4 linked regions of the Homo sapiens genome follow. The protein of the gene in region 1 purifies or fractionates together with the protein of each later gene. This does not show direct contact. Each region holds a gene or a part of one and is shown in the gene's direction. Other genes may lie near its edges. The genes, in order: GDF3, PPM1A, NPTX1 and IDH3B.

Region 1 (3,659 bases):
AAAAAAAAAATTGGCTGGGTGTGGTGGCTTTTGCCTGTAATCCCAACACTTTGGGAGGCCGAGGTGGGCGGATCACCTGAGGTCAGGAGTTTGAGACCAGCCTGGCCAACATGGTGAAACCCCGTCTCTACTAAAAATACAATTAGCCAGACGTGGTGTGCACCTGTAATCCCAGCTACTCCAGAGGCTGATTCAGGAGAATTGCTTGAACCCGAGAGACGGAGGTTGCAGTGAGCTGAGATCAAGCCAGTGCACTCCAGCCTGGGCAACAGAGCAGGACTCCGTCTCAGAAAAAAAAAAAAAAAATTAAAGCCAATCTGAATGATTGGACTTTGGCCAACAACACCTGACTGTCTAGGTTGCTATTTTTTTTTTTTTTTTAACTGAGACGGAGTTTTGCTCTTGTTGCCCAGGCTGGAGTACAATGGTGTGATATCGGCTCACCACAACCTCTGCCTCCCAAATTCAAGTGATGCTCCTGCCTCAGCCTCCCGAGTAGCTGGGATTACAGGCATGTGCCACCCTGCCCGGCTAATTTTTTTGTATTTTTAGCAGAGACAGGTTTTCTCCATGTTGGTCAGTCTGGTCTCCTGACCTCAGGTTATCTGCCCGCCTTGGCCTCCCAAAGTGCTGGGATCACTGGTGTGAGCCACCATGTCCCGGCCCAGTCTATTGACTCTTTCTCAGAATAATGGTTTAAGTGCCTAAAGTAAAATATTTAGGATTTCAAAAGAAACCAATTAAATATTGAAATACATTTTAAAATTTTTTTAAAACTTTTTTTATTTTTTATTTATTTTTTATTTTTTGAGGCAGAGTCTTGCTCTGTCGCCCAGGCTGGAGTGCAGTGGCGTGATCTTGGCTCACTGCAAGCTCCGCCTCCCGGGTTCACACCATTCTCCTGCCTCAACCTCCTGAGTAGCTGGAACTACAGGCACCCTCCACCTTGCCCGGCTAATTTTTTGTATTTTTAGTAGAGATGGGGTTTTACCGTGTTAGCCAGGATGGTCTCGATCTCCTCATCTCGTGATCCGCCCGCCTCGGCCTCCCAAAGTGCTGGGATTACAGGCATGAGCCACCACGCCTGGCTTTTAAAATATTTTAAAGACAAATGTATATATAGTAATATATATAATGCTTTATTCATGTAATACATAACAAGATTTAGGGAGGTGACTATACCTATAACTACCATAAATTTCGGCATAGTGTTAGCATAAGTGTTTTGTTTTTTTTTTTCTTTTTCTTTTCTTTTATTTATTTATTTATTTTGTAGAGATGGGGTTTCACTATGTTGCCCAGGATGGTCTCAAACTCCTGGCCTCAAGCAAATCTCCCATCTCAGCCTCCCAACGTGCTGGGATTACAGGCATGAGCCACCTTGCCTGGACTCCATAAATATTTTAAGTTATTTGCAACAACTAAACGTATGAACACACCTATGATTTTATTGATAACAATGTCATAGGCCCTGATGATATTACTGGGATTTGTTACCTATATTCATAATGAAGGAAATGCTAAATTTCATTTAGAGTTTAGTGGAAATAATGATGTAATTATTTTTCCCATCTAAGTTCGTGCACCCTCTACATTTCATCCAGGAATCTCTGGGAACCTGTGGATGTGAAGATAAGAACCTCTGGCTTTCTTTTTTTTTTTTTTTGAGACGGAGTCTTGCTCTGTCACCCAGGCTGGAGTGCAATGGCGCGATCTCGGCTCACTGCAAGCTCCGCCTCCCGGGTTCACGCCATTCTCCTGCCTCAGCCTCCTGAGTAGCTGGGACTACAGGCGCCCGCCACCACGCCTGGCTAATTTTTGTATTTTTAGTAGAGACGGGGTTTCACCATGTTAGCCAGGATAGTCTCGATCTCCTGACCTCGTGATCCGCCCGCCTCGGCCTCCCAAAGTGCTGGGATTACAGGCGTGAGCCGCCGCACCTGGGGACCCTCTGGCTTTCAGGAATAGAGAAACAAACCCTCCCAAATGACAGGGCTTGTGTCTTTCCCTGCCCTTATATTGTATATGTGGGTGTCTGGCATTTCTATTATATAGGTGGATATGAAGTAAATACATCATTATGACTCTGACATGTCTCTTTTCCCATCTAGGTTTCTTTCTTTACCCAAAGAAAATTTCCCAAGCTTCCTCCTGCCTGCAGAAGCTCCTCTACTTTAACCTGTCTGCCATCAAAGAAAGGGAACAGTTGACATTGGCCCAGCTGGGCCTGGACTTGGGGCCCAATTCTTACTATAACCTGGGACCAGAGCTGGAACTGGCTCTGTTCCTGGTTCAGGAGCCTCATGTGTGGGGCCAGACCACCCCTAAGCCAGGTAAAATGTTTGTGTTGCGGTCAGTCCCATGGCCACAAGGTGCTGTTCACTTCAACCTGCTGGATGTAGCTAAGGATTGGAATGACAACCCCCGGAAAAATTTCGGGTTATTCCTGGAGATACTGGTCAAAGAAGATAGAGACTCAGGGGTGAATTTTCAGCCTGAAGACACCTGTGCCAGACTAAGATGCTCCCTTCATGCTTCCCTGCTGGTGGTGACTCTCAACCCTGATCAGTGCCACCCTTCTCGGAAAAGGAGAGCAGCCATCCCTGTCCCCAAGCTTTCTTGTAAGAACCTCTGCCACCGTCACCAGCTATTCATTAACTTCCGGGACCTGGGTTGGCACAAGTGGATCATTGCCCCCAAGGGGTTCATGGCAAATTACTGCCATGGAGAGTGTCCCTTCTCACTGACCATCTCTCTCAACAGCTCCAATTATGCTTTCATGCAAGCCCTGATGCATGCCGTTGACCCAGAGATCCCCCAGGCTGTGTGTATCCCCACCAAGCTGTCTCCCATTTCCATGCTCTACCAGGACAATAATGACAATGTCATTCTACGACATTATGAAGACATGGTAGTCGATGAATGTGGGTGTGGGTAGGATGTCAGAAATGGGAATAGAAGGAGTGTTCTTAGGGTAAATCTTTTAATAAAACTACCTATCTGGTTTATGACCACTTAGATCGAAATGTCAATATACCTGTGTTTATAATTTGTCTTCCTGAAAAACCCACCATAATTAACAATGCCCATACTTGCATGCGTGTGCACACACACACATCCTGGAGCCCTAATAATCATAGTTAATTTCTGTTCTAACATACTCATTATGCATATGACAGTATGGACACTGGCATTTACTGATGGCCGATTATGGGCAGGCATTATCCTACGTGTTACTTTACAAACATTTCACTGTCTTTGAGGGAAGTATTGTTATTTATGCTTTACAGACAAAGAAGCTGAGGTTTAGAGAAGCTAACAAATTTTCCTAAGGTCAGCAGCTCTCCCTGGCTCTCCCTGGCAAATCTGATATGCTAACAGCATTACATTAAAAATATTTGAGGCCGGGTGTGGTGGCTCACGCCTGTAATCCCAGCACTTTGAGAGGCTGAGGTGGGTGGATTATGAGGTCAGAAGATCGAGACCAGATTGACCAACATGGCGAAACCCCGACTCTACTAAAATACAAAAAATTAGCCGGGCATGGTGGTGCATGCCTGTAGTCCTAGCTACTTGGGAGGCTGAGGCACGGGAATCGCTTGAACCCAGGAGACCGGTTGTAGTGAGCTGAGATCGTGCCATTGCACTCCAGCCTGGCA
Region 2 (7,167 bases), on another chromosome or scaffold:
GGATTACGGGCATGCGCCACCATGCCTGGCTAATTTTTGTATTTTTAGTAGAGACGGGGTTTCACCATATTGGCCAGGCTGGTCTAGAACTCCTGACCTCATGATCCACCCACCTCGGCCTCCTAAAGTGCTGGGATTACAGGCGTGAGCCACCACACCTGGCTGCCTTCTTATATGCTTATACAGGAACAGATGGAGAAAGAGATTCGGAAAGGTTCAGTAGTCACACTATTACTAAGTAGTAGAGCCAGAATTTAAACCCACATTGGTCTAATTTCATAACTTATTTTCTTTAGTACTTCATGCTATTGGTGAATTCGTAGAGGAAGGAAGTTTGTCATTACTATTCTTTTCTGTTGGTTTGTCTCTTAAATGTGTTTAATTTTTTGAGTTTCACTCACGTCTCTTTTTTTCTTTCCTTTTCTCAAGGTAGTGGAGTCTTTCCTCTGTAAAACTTCACCTTGTTGTTTCTAGTCTAGGATAGTGGTCTTGTAACCTAGGATAGTGGTCTTGGTTACTGCAATTTTGGTTGATTATTTCTTGTTGGCCCTTAATGTGCCCCCATCTTCTGCCTTAGGCATTCCATCTAATCTTTTCCAGCAGTTTGCAACCTTACTGTGCCTCAGAATCACATATGAAAATTTAAAAATCATAGATACCTAGGTTCCAACCCTACCCTGGAAATTCTGATTTGGAAATATTTATTTTTCAAAAAGTCCACAGATAATTCTGTTGCACAGCCATGGTAGAGACCCATTTTCTTAGGGGTTAATGATGCTTTAGAGTCACGCAGACTTGAATCAGAGCCCTGATTCCTTTAAACTTATTAGTTGAGTGATCTTGGCCAAGTTCTTTAATCTTGGCTAAGGTTCTTCATCTATAAATTGGAGATAATATTATTATCTACCTTAGAGAGTTGTTGAAGAGATTAAATGAAGTAATGCTTGTAAAACACTTACCAGAGGGACTTAGAATACTTCTTAAACATTGCCTGCTAATAAGGTGTCATTATTACGTTATCCTTTATCCAATCAAAATACTCACCTTTGCAGTGTGTATCAACTTGATGTCAGAAAAATAATCTGATAAATATCACCATAAGGGATGGATGATAGCTAGTTTTCATTACTTACCTTTCGTTAGTTGAACTGTACTAGGAGGCAGAGGAGTAGGCAGATGGTTTTATCACGCCAATCAGCCAGTCTTTTCTGCCTATGTATCAGTTTGGACCTATAAGGAAAATGAAGGGGAAAACAAATGTTTTTCTTTCCTTCCTAGGAGGATTTTCTTCTTGCCCTTTTTCTCCCAGTTTCCTCTCTGAGCTGAGTATCATTAGCATCATCAATACCCTAGTTTCAGAGCTGCGTAGTGATTTACCTAGATACTTTTCTCCACCATTATTCCCTACTACCTAACTCCTCTTCACCTCCATTAAATCTCTGTTCATCATGCTATCCTTCTTTTGGATTGCCTTTAGTTCAGTTGTGACTTACTTGATTACTTGAACCCAGGTGTCTACATTTCTAAGCTATTGTTCAAGTAAGGGCCAAGGTAAATTCTAACCAGCTGTCTCTTTGCCTTGTGTGGGCCCATTCTAGACCAGCGGGTGTTAACTTTTGAGTATTGGAAAAGGATTAGATTAGCTGAGCCTTCAGGCTTGTCAGCAGGGCTGTCACTAGACCCTTTGATCTTCTTTATATACCTAATGGTCATAGAGTATAATAATAATGGTACATGTTATTACTATATGATTAATAGATTACTAGTAGTAATTTTGTTATATATGTATACAGTACACTTCGTTATGTATATATATAATTGCTTGCAACTTGAAATTTGAGGCTACAACATTTACAGTAATTTAATAACTTAACTGACTTTATCAAAAACTGAAAAACCTCATGGAAAAGGTAGAATGTAAGGTAGACTTAAAAGGATAGGTATACTTTTTTCTATAAATAGGATGAGGCAAGAGTTTCCAGTTAAGGAAACTGACATGAGCAAAGGCTTGAAGGAGCATGCAAATTTGGAGCATTGTGAGTAGATTATTTTTTAGTTTTTCAGAGTTCATGCAGTGGGAATAAAACTAGGGAGTTTGGAATCAAGCTTGAAAATTCCTGAATGTTCAACCAAGATATATTTGAGTTAGTAGATTTTTTGGGTATGTCATGAATTCGTTTGGCTTTTCTTAATTGATATACATACAACTTAGTCCTGAGCTTACACATGTTCATTGTATCATTAAACATTTAGCCTGGTTGGTTTAAGTTGATGGCCACTGCCAGGTCTCCTTTCTGCCTTCTCCCCTTTATCCCAATGCTTTAGTTTTTTTCTGCCTTTTTGTCTGTTGTGATCTGTGCTTCATCAGGCTTTCCCCCAGTTCCTCCTTGTTAATCTCCAGATTCCAAGTCAGCAACACAATGAATGTCTGCTTATCGCGAGTTGTGAATTCCCGCATATCTCTTTCACTTATTAAAAAGATTGTTTGGTACATATTTTGTTTATAAGACAGTTATTGACTTTCCTGTTTCTCTTCCTTTGCAGACCTAGAGGATCAAGACATAATGGGAGCATTTTTAGACAAGCCAAAGATGGAAAAGCATAATGCCCAGGGGCAGGGTAATGGGTTGCGATATGGGCTAAGCAGCATGCAAGGCTGGCGTGTTGAAATGGAGGATGCACATACGGCTGTGATCGGTTTGCCAAGTGGACTTGAATCGTGGTCATTCTTTGCTGTGTATGATGGGCATGCTGGTTCTCAGGTTGCCAAATACTGCTGTGAGCATTTGTTAGATCACATCACCAATAACCAGGATTTTAAAGGGTCTGCAGGAGCACCTTCTGTGGAAAATGTAAAGAATGGAATCAGAACAGGTTTTCTGGAGATTGATGAACACATGAGAGTTATGTCAGAGAAGAAACATGGTGCAGATAGAAGTGGGTCAACAGCTGTAGGTGTCTTAATTTCTCCCCAACATACTTATTTCATTAACTGTGGAGACTCAAGAGGTTTACTTTGTAGGAACAGGAAAGTTCATTTCTTCACACAAGATCACAAACCAAGTAATCCGCTGGAGAAAGAACGAATTCAGAATGCAGGTGGCTCTGTAATGATTCAGCGTGTGAATGGCTCTCTGGCTGTATCGAGGGCCCTTGGGGATTTTGATTACAAATGTGTCCATGGAAAAGGTCCTACTGAGCAGCTTGTCTCACCAGAGCCTGAAGTCCATGATATTGAAAGATCTGAAGAAGATGATCAGTTCATTATCCTTGCATGTGATGGTATCTGGGATGTTATGGGAAATGAAGAGCTCTGTGATTTTGTAAGATCCAGACTTGAAGTCACTGATGACCTTGAGAAAGTTTGCAATGAAGTAGTCGACACCTGTTTGTATAAGGTAGCTAGACTTTTTTTAAAAACATAAAATGATTTTATGCCATATTAATCACTACTCTAGTATTTAATCATCTTAGAATCTGTAATTCTGAAACCAGTTTTTGGCACAACTGTAGGATACTGTTCACCAATTATGAAAATATATCATAGGACCACTATGTAGAAATAAATTACCCAATTACCATCTCTGCAAGAGTTATAAGCTGAATGTTTAGTCTTACTACTTGAGCTTTGTAATAATGTGGAAGATTATCAAAGGTAAAAAGATTTTATCAGAGTGCATGTTTTGAAAGAAAGAGGGTGGGGAGGGTTAGGCCTCAGTGTCTATAAATGAAAAGCATTTTAGAGTTTTAATATTTGACCATGTGATATCTCAGTACATTTATGATATCCTAATCCTTTGAAACTAAGGTTTAATGGTCTGTAGCACTTGAAAGAGGAATGTAGTGATCATTAGACGTGATGTAATAGAAATAGCCTTGTACATGGAGTCAGAAGAACTTGCTCTGAGACTGTGTATGGTTTTAGGTAAGCTATTTAAACTCTAATCAGTTTTTTTCATCATAAAAAGGATAAGACATTATTATCTTGTCTCATGGCGTTGTCAGGAGGATCAAATGGGATAATATACACAGGTGAGCTAGCTCAGCCCCTTTATTTTACAGATGAGGAAGCTGAAGCCAGAGAAGGTTCTACAAACTTAAGAGTCAGACAGACCTGAGACCAAGGCTTACCTCTATTAGTTTTGTACTCTACATTCCTGAACGAATTGTTCAACCTCTCTCAGCTTTAAAATGGAGATAATAGTATCTTATAAGACTGTTGCCGGGCGCGGTGGCTCACGCCTGTAATCCCAGCACTTTGGGAGGCCGAGGTGGGCGGATCACGAGGTCAGGAGATCGAGACCATCCTGGCTAACACAGTGAAACCCCGTCTCTACTAAAAAACACAAAAAATTAGCCGGGTGTGGTGGCGGGCGCCTGTAGTCCCAGCTACGCGGGAGGCTGAGGCAGGAGAATGGCGTGAACCCGGGAGGCGGAGCTTGCAGTGAGCCGAGATCGCGCCACTGCACTCCAGCCTGGGCGACAGAGCGAGACTCCGTCTCAAAAAAAAAAAAAAAGACTGTTGAGGAATTAATGAGCGTATGTATATATATATATATGTGTGTGTGTATATATATATATACATATATATATATATAATGCCTAGTTTAGCATATAATACATGCTACACCCTTTCCTACAGATATTATAAATGACGTGTACAGGGTTTTATACATTGCTAACAGCATTAAGACTAGAAAATCAAGGCCCTTGACTTGGGTTCAGTGTTCTTTCTGCCACACTCTGTTCTGTTTTGTCAATAATGCTTATTAACTTATTCTTTGATGTTTTTTTAAACAAATGTTGACTTTTTAAAATTCTTCTGAGGGTATATATTTGATACTCAAATATTTAATTATAGCATTTGAATACTTAGATGTCTTTAAAAATGAATGTAGTTCCTAAAAGTTGTCAGTTTTTAAAATTAATACAAGTTAAAAGCTGGTTTATAAACCTTAGGTAGTTTTACCTCTTATTTCATATTTCTACTTATGAAGCGAATGTATTAGCCCCACAATTTATAATTTATTTTAAAGGTAATTTTATCAGGTACATATAACTACAGGTCAAATCCTATTGTAAACAATGCCACTAAAATTTTCTGTCATGTTGTATGGAAGGAGTGTGTGTACACATGTATATTTGTATTAGGTATCACTTCAAATTAAGTCACCAGTAAATGTTTAGAAATAGTATTGTTTTATAGAATTATAAAAAATTATTATTACAGTGAGATTAACCTGTAATGTTTCTCTCCTGTCTTTTGGAGTATTGGTTATACTGTATTCTCTCTATACTGTTCGGGGGAGGGGGAGTCATTGCACACACACACGCACGCATGCGTGCACATATGTATTTTTTTCTCCCTGAAAGTAACATTTTCACTAGAACAAGTATAACTGTAATTGGCACAGCTGTAAAGGTTCTCAAGGCTTTGAAGAGCAAAAAGAAAACTAAAATATTCTCAAATTTTTTTCTTCCCAGGGAAGTCGAGACAACATGAGTGTGATTTTGATCTGTTTTCCAAATGCACCCAAAGTATCGCCAGAAGCAGTGAAGAAGGAGGCAGAGTTGGACAAGTACCTGGAATGCAGAGTAGAAGGTGGATCATTTAACAAAAAATAAGTAGCTTTATTAAAGAAAAATCTTCAACACAATCAAACTTTAACATTTTAGCTTTTAGATTTTTATGTGTCTTTGACAGCTAGTGTCTAGTGTATGAAAGTGGAAAAGGACATTTCTGTAGTAGCTGTTAAGATGTATGCAGTTGTCCTATCACAGTTATATTAGAAATAACAACTAGTGTGGAAAGTAACCCACATTCTGTTCAGGATACTTTTGTTTTAAAAGGCTAAAATGTTTGTGTGCTTTAAAATTCTTAATGAATTCACTGGCATGAGTAATTTTATGCCGGGAAAATCTGATTTGTGGTCTATTTAATTACAAAGAGATTGTGATGGTGATAATTTGAATACCATCTTTCTATGAAAAGCTGTGTATATTAATTTTAATCTCTAGGGCCTTTTTTCAATAACTTGAAAATCACAGCCTCATCATTAGCAACTTTATATACACAGCTTTAAAAAATTTGCTTTAAACTGTTTCAGAGCTTCTTCCCTAAGCCATAAACTGTCTCACCTAAACAAGATAGACCTCAATAAAAGACATAATATTTCTCCACCTGGCAGAAAAGTAACTGCCAAGTAAGATTAAGAAATAAGTTGAGCATTTCTGGAGTATATTTCTCATAATTCTGCAGAGACTTCCAGTTTATTGCATATATGCAGTAAAGTGTATATATTATGCAGTTTCTCTAAGTGGAAAAACTTGACATGACTTTAATAGTGTTAAAACATGAAAATGCTGGTGAGCTGAGGTAGAAAAAAAACAAGAAAAAAATTTTAAAAATAGCGTTAAAATGCATTTTAGGCTCCTAATGTCGTTAATTTGCACGTTAAAGACCTCTAATCGCATGCAAGCATTGACCTACCACACCTACATCCCACTGTGCCTGCATTATTGAAATTACTACTCACTTTAATTTTTTTTCCCCTTTTTACTGTTTGATACCAATCATAATCAGTCTGATACTAGAATCATGATTGGTTTTGTTCTTTAGTACTGTCTAGAGCTACTATTTTGTTTTTATTGCTGTCCGCCACTTGATAGTCATACATCTAGTATGTGTTTGTACTATTTAGTATTGCATTCATTGGACGTACTATTCAACGAATTTGTCTCCTTACTGTTACCAAGGGTCTTGGAATTTTTATATTTTAAATTAATCATTCAATATAAGTTATTTATAGGTATAGTACAATTTTAAAATATTTAGAATGCTACAATCATTGGTTCAAACTATTGATTCATGGGAAAATTTAAATTCATAAGAATAATATGTATAGGGATAAGTTGATATTTAATGTATTGGCACTTTAACTTGGGCAGACATGTTTTCTTATTGGTTTAAAGAAGTAATAAGTATTTTAATATTTTTACTATGAAATGGGATCCAATTTTAGAAATGAATTGCTACTTTTCTCTTTAGTGTGTACACTTTAAGTTTTAGATGGAATTATGAAATATTCACTTTACGTTATTTTGTTACAATAATAAGTTTTATATTTCTTATTATCAAGCAAGAGTTGCCACCTGGACAGAGTTTAC
Region 3 (7,106 bases), on another chromosome or scaffold:
CGGGGAGATACGGCAGGATGAGCAAGGGGCACAGGCACCCACCAGGCTTAGGCACACCCCTGCATGAGCTCCCACCGTCCACTGAGTAAAGACTCTTGATGGGCACTGAGGTCCTCTTAATACCTCCCAACCTACCCGGCTAGCCTTCTTTTTTTAAAATTTTTTTTTTTGAGACAGGATCTTGCTGTGTTGCCCAGGCTGGAGTGCAGTGACGTGGTCTCGGCTCACTGCAGCGTCAACCTCTCGAGCTCAAACAATCCTCCCACTTCAGTCCCCAGAGTAGTTGGGACTGCAGGTGCACCCCACCATGCCTGGCTAATTTTTGTATTTTTGTAGAGATGAGATTTTGCCATGTTGTCCAGGCTGGTGTCAAACTCCTGGGCTCAAGAGATCCACCCACCTCGGCCTCCCAAAGTGCTGGGATTCAAGGCGTGAGCCCCTGCACCCGGTCTGTCTAGTCTTCTTATGCCTGGCCACCCTCTCCATACTGGCCACTAACCAGGGCCTCTCCTGGACACCTGCCCCCTTTGCCTTCTCTACACTCCCCCTCCCACTACCAACTAACCTCTGCAGGCCTCTCCGTGCCCTTCCACCAGGAGTGAGCTGAGCCGGCCAGTACCCACTGATGGTGGCATTTGCAGGAATTTCACAGGTCGATGGTTAAACACAGCCACTATTACATTTTAAACTAAGTAAACTTATAATTAAATAAATTATATTTTAAATGGGCAATAAATACTACAAACTCATCACTTTCTAATTATTTTCTTACATTGAACTATTGTCTATCTTTTTTTTTTTTGAGACACAGTATTGCTCTGTCATCCAGGCTGGAGTGCAGTGGTTCGATCTCGGCTCACTGCAACCTCTGCCTCCCAGGTTCAGGTGATTCTCCTGCCTCAGCCTCTCAAGTAGCTGGGATTACAGATGTGTGCCACCACACCTGGTTAATTTTTGTATTTTTGGTAGAGACGGGGTTTCACCATGTTGGCCAGGCTGGTCTCAAACTCCTGACCTCATGTGATCCAGCTTGGCCTTCCAAAGTGCTGGGATTACAGGCGTGAGCCACTGCGCCCAGCCTTGTCTATGCTTTTGAGTTTTATTCACATCTATTGCACCGTTATGGTGGGAGTAGTATAATAAGTACTATTGTGCTAGGCCGGGCGCTGTGGCTTGCACCTGTAGTCCCAAGACCAAGGCAAGAGGAGTTCAACCATCTCTACGAAAAAAACAAAAAAAATTAGCTGAAGTGTGGTGGTGCAGGAAGCATCGCTTGAGCCCAAGAGGTCGAGGCTGCAGTTAGCTGTGATTGCGCCACCGCACTCCAGCCTAGGCAACAGAGCAAGACCCTGTCTCAAAAATAAAATAACAGTGTGCTAGTGTGCATGGTTTCCCAATGAGTGAGGTCGTGTCACAGGCAGCCACAAATGTACGCGGCTGGGAATATTACGGGATCGCCTCCCTCACCCCAGCTGCATCTGGGGTGTGGGACTCAGGCAGGGCCGGGATCACTGGCTGTTCACAACACCATCCCCCCTCTTCCGACCTAGTAACCAGACACCCCGATGAGTTTGGGCAGGGCGGCCCTTCGTTTTCCTGCTCCCTCCCTCTCAGATACTTTCAGAACACTGGGGAGGCCGAGGGAATCCTAAATACGACCCTCCGCTTGCCCAGGGTCTTGTGAAGGAGAAACGCGGCATGGTGGCCCTCGCGTGTGTGTGCAGCGCCTGCAGGTGTCCCGCCCAGCGCCTCCTGCACAACAGTTGCAGGCTGGACCCGAGGGTCTCCTCTCCTGGGGCCCCACAGTGCCCAGAGGTCCCGCTAGCCCCAGACACCGCCCCAGGCTCCCCTCCCTTTCTGACGCCGTCCACTCCCTTCCTCTGCGGAAGGGGGACACGCTCCTCTGTGCCGAGGTGCCAGGCCGCTGAGATCTGCTGCCCTGGAGGAAAAGCCAGGCAGGGTCCCTGGCCTTGGGCGGCTAGGAAGGCTCCACGGCTGCTGGGGATAGAGACGCGGGGCCAGGCTAAGGGTTCCCGCCCCGTCTAAACAGCCTGCCCTGGGCAGGGCAGGGCTCCTCTCCCGCGCCCGCGCGCTCTCGGCTGGGCACGGTCCGGCTCCAGGCCTGACGGGCGCGGCCTCCCCACTGGACGCGTGCGGGAGGGCGGCGAGGCCAAAGCGCTGGGGCCAGGAGGGCACCCGCCTAGCGGCTCCCTACGGGAGTTGGGGCAGAAGACGCCGCGACCCCGCGCGGGTAATTTCTCCCGAGGCGCGTTCCAGCCCGTGGCGCTGCCGGCGCAGACCCCGCGTGGGGACCGGCGAGGCTAACCCCTCCTGCGGCCCGGGGTCGGCAGAGCACGCAAGGGGCCGCGGGCCGCGTGGGTTTGGGCGCGCCGTGGTGGGCAAGCGGGGCCAGCGGAGCGGGAACCCGCACACCCTCCGAGCGGAGCCGAGGACAGGCCCGTGCGGGCCGCGGGGTCCCTCTGGCGCCAGGAAGCGGCGGCCGAAGGAGACAACGAGAACGCAGCCCCGGCTCAGGGAGGCTTAAAAGCTGAGATGCTGAACGCAGACGGCGGGCGCTCGGGGGCTGGGGGGCGGGTAGAGGCCGCCATTTCTCAAAAAGGTCTCCATCGAGCCGGCCTCTGCTCCCGCCCGAGGGGCGGACGCCCGATCCCGGCACCCGGGACTGCCCGTGGGTCCCTGCTGGCTGGGGACCCCCAGCCCCCGGCTGCGCGCAGGGAAAGGCTGCAGAACGCAGAGACCAGAGAAGCCGGGGGCGGCGGGGAGGGGTCGGGGGGCCACGGCTGTAGCCCGGCCCCGCAGTCTCGGAGCCTCAGTTTCCTTCTCTGTACCACGGGAGCGTGGACGGAGGGATTTCCGAGGCTTTGACCGCTCTGATAGCCCCGGGGCGGGGCGGGGCGGGGCGGCTGCGCCAGCCCTGGTCCTGAGCCCCCAGCCCGGCGCCGGAACCCGGACCGCGATCTCGGGAGCCGAGCCCCGCGGTCCAGATGAAGGCGCGAGTGCGCGGGTGCCGGGTGGGGTGTCTGAGCGAGAGCGGAGCTTCTCAGGTGGACGCCCCCAGCCACCTCCGGGACCCTTCCTGCTGGCCTTTGGGCCTGAGAAGTGGGCGCGGCTGGACAGACGGGAAACAGCCCCCCACGCACAGGTGGACACCCGGGGATACCGGGCGCGCGCGGCGCCTGGCAAGGGGAAGCTGCTGGAGACGCGGGCGGCTGCTCCCGCGGGGCCCCCTTCCGAAGCGCCGCTGCGAACGTCCAGCCCCGGCGACGCCGCCTGCCCGCGATCGGGCCGGCGCCGCGGACAGGAAAGGCTCGATCAGCTAGGTCTGCCTCCGAGAAGTCCCCAGCGCCCCGCCCGCACGGGGTGGGGACTGACAGTCCCCCGGGGACGGGGCCGGGTCCACAGAGCCCGGGAGCTGGGGGAGGGGAGGCGCCGGGGGCCCCGACCCGTGGGAAGTCCCTGTACCCAGGCTGCCCGGCGGCTTCTCAATAGCACACGGACATCTAAGAAACGCGGGGCGGCCCGGTGACCCCCGCTCTGGACTTAGTGGCGCCGCGAGGCCCCACTCCGAGCCGTTGACCACCGGGCACTCGGGTGTTGACGACCTGGGTCCTTGGGCACCCAGCCCGGCTCCAAACGACCCCGGCCCAAGGGTGTTCAGTGCAGCCAGGAGGGCCGAACCGAATTCTATCTCCCGGACGCGGTGGTTTCCCGCCCGCCTGGAGCCCCGTCGGAGGTTCGGGGACACCACGCAGGTGGTCCATCCTCGAGTCCGGGGCCGGAGCCCGACTTCCTTCCCCCTGAGCTCTCGGAGCCTTCGGGGCAGCAGCGCCGGCCCAGGCGGGGGCGGGGGAGGAGGGGGCCGCGGCAGCTCCCAGAAGGGCGGGGGGGACGCGAGCGGAGGCAGCCCCGGTGGCGCGCTCGTGAGACCCCCGCCGCGCCGCGGGCCCGGGCCGCGGACAATTAAAGCGGGATTCCTCCCCCGCTGACGTCGGCGGCTCGAGGCCCCTCCCGCGGCGGCATAAAAGGCGCGGGCTCCGCAGCGCAGGCGGCAGTGGGGGCCTGATAGCGCGGCGGTGTGGACCGCGCGGCCGAAGAGCGCGGCGCCCAGAGCGCGGGCCGCTCGCGGAGCCACAGCCCGAGCCGGGTCCCAGCCGGAGCCGAGCCCCAGCCGAGCCGAGCCGGGCCCGGAGCGCCCGGTGCCCGCAGCCATGCCGGCCGGCCGCGCCGCGCGCACCTGTGCGCTGCTCGCCCTCTGCCTCCTGGGCGCCGGGGCCCAGGATTTCGGGCCGACGCGCTTCATCTGCACCTCGGTGCCCGTGGACGCCGACATGTGCGCCGCGTCCGTGGCCGCCGGCGGCGCCGAGGAGCTCCGGAGCAGCGTGCTGCAGCTCCGCGAGACGGTGCTGCAGCAGAAGGAGACCATCCTGAGCCAGAAGGAGACCATCCGCGAGCTGACCGCCAAGCTGGGCCGCTGCGAGAGCCAGAGCACGCTGGACCCCGGAGCCGGCGAGGCCCGGGCGGGCGGCGGCCGCAAGCAGCCCGGCTCGGGCAAGAACACCATGGGCGACCTGTCCCGGACACCGGCCGCCGAGACGCTCAGCCAACTCGGGCAAACTTTGCAATCGCTCAAAACCCGCCTGGAGAACCTCGAGGTCCGCGCGCGCCCTCGGCTCCGGTTCCCCCTCCGGCTCGCTCGCCCCTCTGCCCTCCCCCACCCCGTTCCCTACCCGGCCAGGCATCCCCCGCCCTCGCCTCAGCCGCGCGGGTGCCCGGCCGGTGCCTCCCCGCGCCTGCGAGGCCCCGCGGCGGCCACTCGCCCCAGCTCCCTGCCAGGCCGCCCCCGCAGTCGCCCAGAGGGGACCGCGCCGCGGGCCTTCCAGCACGGTCCCCGCGCCTCGCCTAACGGTGTGGTTTCCCCCGCCCTTGCACCCCGCAGCAGTACAGCCGCCTCAATTCCTCCAGCCAGACCAACAGCCTCAAGGATCTGCTGCAGAGCAAGATCGATGAGCTGGAGAGGCAGGTGCTGTCCCGGGTGAACACCCTGGAGGAGGGCAAGGGGGGCCCCAGGAACGACACCGAGGAGAGGGTCAAGATCGAGACCGCCCTGACCTCCCTGCACCAGCGGATCAGCGAGCTCGAGAAAGGTACTGGGGCCAGGGGGAGCCGTGCTGCCTGCCTGCACCTGCTTGCCCGACCCTGCCTCGGTCCCGATCCCTAACAGCCCAGCTCTGCACTGTGCAAGCCTCAAGCCGCTCCGCTACCCCCAACCCCTGCACCGCTTTCTCATTCCCCGCACCCCTTCCCAGGTTCTGGGCTTCTAGTCGGTGTTTCTATCAGGGCTGGGTGCCTTGGGCTGGGGCTGTCTCTGGGAAAGGGGATTGCATAGTGCCCCCTCCCCCATCCAGACACACTCACACACTCGCTGGATTTTTCAAGTCTGATTTGTTTAATCCTCAGTAACTTTGCACAGTGGCTGTCGCTGGCTCAAACCCTCCCTGCTTAAGAAAGCCTGTCTCTCCCTGGTCCCCAGCCTCAGCGTACAGCTGGGTGCAGGCTGGGGCTGGGCGCTCTCGTTCCCCGGGCCGCTGAGGCTGTTAAGCAGGTTTCTTCCCGGCTGCCATGCCCCCGGTGTCCTCTCAGGATCTCCAGCTCCTCCCCACTTCTGTCCTGAACCCCTACCCTGAGGTTTTCTTTTCTGAGTGACCCAAGTCCTGGCATCTTTCAAATCCCTGAGGTTTCTCAGTCACCAACTCAGGCCAGCCAGTCTATCACCCAGGGCGCCTGGATGAGCGCTGGAGGCTCTGTCTTGAAGTCGCAGAAATCAAACAAGGTTGTAAAAGGGGAGGGGGGGGGGTGCCCGGTGCGGAGCAAGGCCACGTGACCCTGCTCAGACCGCAAAATGTGCCGGACAGATTTAAACAGTGCCATCTTAAGGCTTGTTATGTAACTGAAAAACAGATCAGAAGGAAGGACCTCAGGAGGGAGGGAGAGGGAAGGAGCGGAGATTGGGGAATGAAAAACACCCGGAGAAAGGCCAGGGGCTGGGCCCCTCCCTATCCCCCACTGCAGGCCTCAATGGGTTGGGGTAGCCGCTGGGGTGCTGCACTGAGGGGGCCTGCCCTGCTCTGCTCCCTGCCAGTTGGTTTAGAGGAGGGGGTGGTTGCTGACCGGGCAGGATGTCTTCTAGAAATAATTTTTGGCCTGGGGAACTGGTTTCTTTCTGGGCTTCCTGGCAGGACCACGGCTGCTCACCCAGGGATTGACCAAGGGGTGTGTGTTCCTGGGCTCTGGGCCTGCTACTGTGCCCATTGCTGGCCAGGAATGTTTTGCCTGGAGTCAGTCACACCATACCCAGGGTGCCACAGTATATAGATGGGCTATGGGGGTTGGCGCTTACGGGAGAAGTGGCCGGTGGGGAGGGAGAAGGTGGGCCTTGTGGAAAGGGAGGCCACCAGGCCTGGAACCTGAGCTGTGAGGACACTTACTCACCTGAGAGTGTGGCGGCATCCTAGAGCAGTCACCTTGGGGAGCCCTGGCGCCCAGAGTACTCCCAGCTCCTTGCTGCCCTGCCCTCTCAGCAGAGCTCCAGGCAGAGTCCCTGCTCCAAGGAAGGGCCTTGGAGGTGGGGAGCTGCCCAGCCTCACACCCAAGAGGCATTGGTGGGTCAGAGGCACATCTGGCCTGGAGGGAAGTGTGTGGGCACCAGGGCCTGGCTGTCGGGTGGGGAGAGGCAGGAGCAGAGCCTGGGATTGAGCGAGGAGAGGCTCTGAGCCCCGCCCCATCCTGGAATCAGGTCGGTTACTCTCAGGGTAGCTAGCCTCGTTCCTCCTCTGCAGCCACCCCTGCTCCTTGGGTTGACTTGGCTTGGCGGCTGTCCCCATTCCCTTCTCATGCCCACCACGCAGCCCAGTGTTGATGCAGCAGCCCACCAGGCACTGCCCCCCACCCCCATCTCCCCAAGGATGCCAGCACATGGGCGTGACAGCAGGCCAGACCTGGAGCATGAAGAGCTTGGGTCAGCTCTTTACAGACTGGCCCTGTGCCTTGGGGCAAAGTACTTGACCTGGGAAGCTACCCGCTCTGCG
Region 4 (3,489 bases), on another chromosome or scaffold:
CTAAAAATACAAAAAATTAGCCAGGTGTGGTGGCACATGCCTGTAATCCCAGCTACTGGGGAGGCTGAGGCAGGAGAATTGCTTGAACCTGGGAGGCAGAGGTTGCAGTGAGCCCAGGTCGTGCCACTGCACTCCAGCCTGGGCGACAGAGTGAGACCCTGTGTCTCTCACACACGCACACACACACACACACACACACACAGAAAATGCAATAGATGAAATGTTTCTGGCTTTAACTACATTATTCTCTTTTGTCCCTTGCCCCCAGAGACAATTTAAAAGTTTACTGATGTGGGAATGGGAGATGGGAGTCTGGGTTACATGATGTTCCTAAGGGGGTTAGACACTGGTCTGAGTTCCCTTGGGCTTGGCCTGTGGCTGACACTCCTTTTCCCACTTTGTTTTCACAGGAAAGATTCATACCCCGATGGAGTATAAGGGGGAGCTAGCCTCCTATGATATGCGGCTGAGGTAGGTGGTCTGGGTGGGGTGAATGGTTGAGAGGTGCCAGGGCACCAGGAGCAGAGCTGATGGCCCTGCCCACCCTCAGGCGTAAGTTGGACTTATTTGCCAACGTAGTCCATGTGAAGTCACTTCCTGGGTATATGACTCGGCACAACAATCTAGACCTGGTGATCATTCGAGAGCAGACAGAAGGGGAGTACAGCTCTCTGGAACATGAGGTGAGGCCCCAGAAACTGGGGGAGGGCAAGGATGAAGATGGGAGAGAGGTGGAGCTCCTTGTTTCCCTTCCCAGTGTCACCTAGCTGCTGCTTTCTTCTTACCCAGAGTGCAAGGGGTGTGATTGAGTGTTTGAAGATTGTCACACGAGCCAAGTCTCAGCGGATTGCAAAGTTCGCCTTTGACTATGCCACCAAGAAGGGGCGGGGCAAGGTCACTGCTGTCCACAAGGCCAACATCATGTGAGGGGCATGGCTTTGTGTAGGATGGGTTCCTGGGAAGGTAGCCCCTGTACTTTCTTGGCTGATTCTGTCCCCTTTGGCCCATGGACAGGAAACTTGGGGATGGGTTGTTCCTGCAGTGCTGTGAGGAAGTTGCTGAACTGTACCCCAAAATCAAATTTGAGACAATGATCATAGACAACTGCTGCATGCAGGTGAGGCCTCCCCACATCTCTACTCATGGGGCGGAGGAGGAGGGTGGGGAGTGGAATTTACTTCATGCCTGCATCTCACCCTCTAGCTGGTGCAGAATCCTTACCAGTTTGATGTGCTTGTGATGCCCAATCTCTATGGGAACATTATTGACAATCTGGCTGCTGGCCTGGTTGGGGGAGCTGGTGTGGTCCCTGGTGAGAGCTATAGTGCAGAATACGCAGTCTTTGAGACGGTGAGGCTGCTTTCTCCCTCGGCCCTTCCTCTGACCTCAAGTCCGCCATTCCTCTCCCATCCCAATATCTCCACTTCCTAAGTGATCTTGGCCTGTTCTTCCCCCACGCTGCCCACCATGCCTCTTTTCAGTGACCCTGGCCTGAGCTCCCCCTCCCATAATGTCCTTTTCCAACCTAAGCCTCTGCATACCCCTCCTGCCTCCTCCCAGTGTCTAGCCTGCCCCTCTCTCCACAGGGTGCCCGGCACCCATTTGCCCAGGCAGTGGGCAGGAATATAGCCAATCCCACGGCCATGCTGCTGTCGGCTTCCAACATGCTGCGGCATCTTAAGTAGGTCATGGGAGGCTGTCGGCAGAGGTTGGGTGTCGTGAGGAGGAGCAGGTGGGGAAATTAGCGGGAGGTGTCTTGGGGGAGTCACAGTTTCTTCCTGTCCATATCCACAGTCTTGAGTATCACTCCAGCATGATCGCAGATGCGGTGAAGAAGGTGATCAAAGTTGGCAAGGTGAGTTGAGAAGAGTAGTGCTGGCTTCAGGATTTAGAGTAGTTCTGGTGTCAGCACCTCGGCACTACCCTCTGGGGAACCTGAATGGGGGTCTCCTTTCCCCCCAGGTCCCCAGAACATCTGCTCCCTGACATCCCTGCATCCCTCTCAGGGCTGTTCTTCATCTCCCTTCTCTTGGCTGTTTCATCCTCTTGATCTCTTTTGCCTCTTAGATCCCATCTGCTGTTCCCTCTTTCCTGCTCCATCCACTGCCCTTTTCATGGGCCATCTGAATGCAGAACTTGCAGCTCTCCTTGGGGGTGGAACAGCAAGGGATACAGGCAGGCTGAAGCATCAGCTTCACCTTCACGCCCCATCTCCTTTTCGCTGTGATTCTTTCCTTCCACCTGGTCTTGTCTCTATTTCTTCCAAGGAAGGTAGCCACATCCTGCCTCTGATCTGCGTTTCCCATCATCTTTGCCTGCTCAGCCTCCTGTCCTGCCCTGGCTGCAGCACAGCTAATAGTGGCTTAAGAGGAGTGGCAGGTCCATGTGCTTCCCATCCTGGCTCCTCCTTCCATTCCTGTGCATTGCCTTTTTTCTGGCTGTCACGCATTCTTGGCTTCCATTTCCTCAATCACATTGCCCTACCTCCCTTCATGGGCTCTCTTTTCTCCCTCCCCACGGCTGTTGCCGGTGGTGGCTGTAGGTGCGGACTCGAGACATGGGCGGCTACAGCACCACAACCGACTTCATCAAGTCTGTCATCGGTCACCTGCAGACTAAAGGGAGCTAGAGCCCTTTATTTCTTCCAACCTTGCAAGGACCACACTCCCCATACCCTTCAGTGCAGTGTACCAGGGAAGAGACCTTGTGCCTCTAAGCAGTGGACCATGGTCACCTTGCTGGGTAGAGCCTAGGTTGTCCTTGGGCCGGCTTCCTTAGGGGACAGACTGTTGGGTGGTGATGGGGATTGTTAGGATGGAGCCCAGGCCACATGGATGATGATGATTCTCCCCCACAGGTTCGAACCTCTGACATGGGTGGCTATGCTACTTGCCATGACTTCACTGAGGCTGTCATTGCTGCCTTGCCCCACCCATAGGCCCTGTCCATACCCATGTAAGGTGTTCAATAAAGAACATGAACCAACTCTTGTGAATTTGTTTTTATTGGGGAACACGGCACAGGGTGGGAAATGTCACCTTGGGCTATGGTATGCCCCACCTCCCAGAGAATGTCCATTTGCATTCTAATCTTCCTGGGATGCTTTATGGAACTTTTTCTTCTTCTTGGAGCTGCTCTTGCCAACCGCCTCTTCAGGCCCACTGCTGACCGGCTCCTCTTTGGAGAATTTCCTCTTTTTCTTGGAGCCACTTCTGTGGCCTGCCTCCTCAGGGTCATTAACTGTTTCCTCCTTGGGTGTAGACTTCTTCCTCTTGGGAATACTGGTGCTGCCAGCGGTCTCTTCAAGATCGCTACTCATCAACTCCTCCTTGGAAAAAGATTTCTTTTTCTTGGGTTTGGAGAAAGAGATAGATGGGTCTTCCATTCCATTCTCCTGAGGAACCTCCTGGGGCTTTTGCTTTTTCTTCTTTTTGGGTTTTTCACTCATCTCCTAAAGGGAAGGACAGGGGAACAGGCTGTGAGAACAGT

Evidence for each region.
Region 2: the proteins of GDF3 (region 1) and PPM1A purify together in Homo sapiens (affinity purification with mass spectrometry; 3 studies listed by BioGRID and IntAct, with this or other methods). This does not show direct contact.
Region 3: the proteins of GDF3 (region 1) and NPTX1 purify together in Homo sapiens (affinity purification with mass spectrometry; 2 studies listed by BioGRID and IntAct, with this or other methods). This does not show direct contact.
Region 4: the proteins of GDF3 (region 1) and IDH3B purify together in Homo sapiens (affinity purification with mass spectrometry; 3 studies listed by BioGRID and IntAct, with this or other methods). This does not show direct contact.

What each region holds. Positions count from the first base shown.
Region 1 is NC_000012.12:7,689,157-7,692,815, reverse strand, and holds the end of GDF3 (growth/differentiation factor 3 preproprotein), read left to right. Parts: intron 1-2,111; coding exon 2,112-2,938; 3' UTR 2,939-3,032; downstream 3,033-3,659.
Region 2 is NC_000014.9:60,280,140-60,287,306, forward strand, and holds part of PPM1A (protein phosphatase 1A), read left to right. Parts: intron 1-2,544; coding exon of another isoform or gene 2,545-2,564; coding exon 2,565-3,398; intron 3,399-5,484; coding exon 5,485-5,602; coding exon of another isoform or gene 5,603-5,625; exon of another isoform or gene 5,626-7,167. UniProt on the Homo sapiens protein: Enzyme with a broad specificity. Negatively regulates TGF-beta signaling through dephosphorylating SMAD2 and SMAD3, resulting in their dissociation from SMAD4, nuclear export of the SMADs and termination of the TGF-beta-mediated signaling.
Region 3 is NC_000017.11:80,473,570-80,480,675, reverse strand, and holds the start of NPTX1 (neuronal pentraxin-1 precursor), read left to right. Parts: upstream 1-4,068; 5' UTR 4,069-4,229; coding exon 4,230-4,673; intron 4,674-4,957; coding exon 4,958-5,165; intron 5,166-7,106. UniProt on the Homo sapiens protein: May be involved in mediating uptake of synaptic material during synapse remodeling or in mediating the synaptic clustering of AMPA glutamate receptors at a subset of excitatory synapses.
Region 4 is NC_000020.11:2,657,891-2,661,379, reverse strand, and holds the end of IDH3B (isocitrate dehydrogenase [NAD] subunit beta, mitochondrial isoform a precursor), read left to right. Parts: intron 1-410; coding exon 411-471; intron 472-550; coding exon 551-683; intron 684-789; coding exon 790-923; intron 924-1,014; coding exon 1,015-1,117; intron 1,118-1,203; coding exon 1,204-1,350; intron 1,351-1,586; coding exon 1,587-1,681; intron 1,682-1,794; coding exon 1,795-1,855; intron 1,856-2,067; coding exon of another isoform or gene 2,068-2,127; exon of another isoform or gene 2,128-2,365; intron 2,366-2,542; coding exon 2,543-2,629; 3' UTR 2,630-2,857; coding exon of another isoform or gene 2,858-2,938; 3' UTR 2,939-2,985; downstream 2,986-3,489. Other genes in the region: NOP56 (nucleolar protein 56), read right to left, coding at 3,086-3,451. UniProt on the Homo sapiens protein: Plays a structural role to facilitate the assembly and ensure the full activity of the enzyme catalyzing the decarboxylation of isocitrate (ICT) into alpha-ketoglutarate.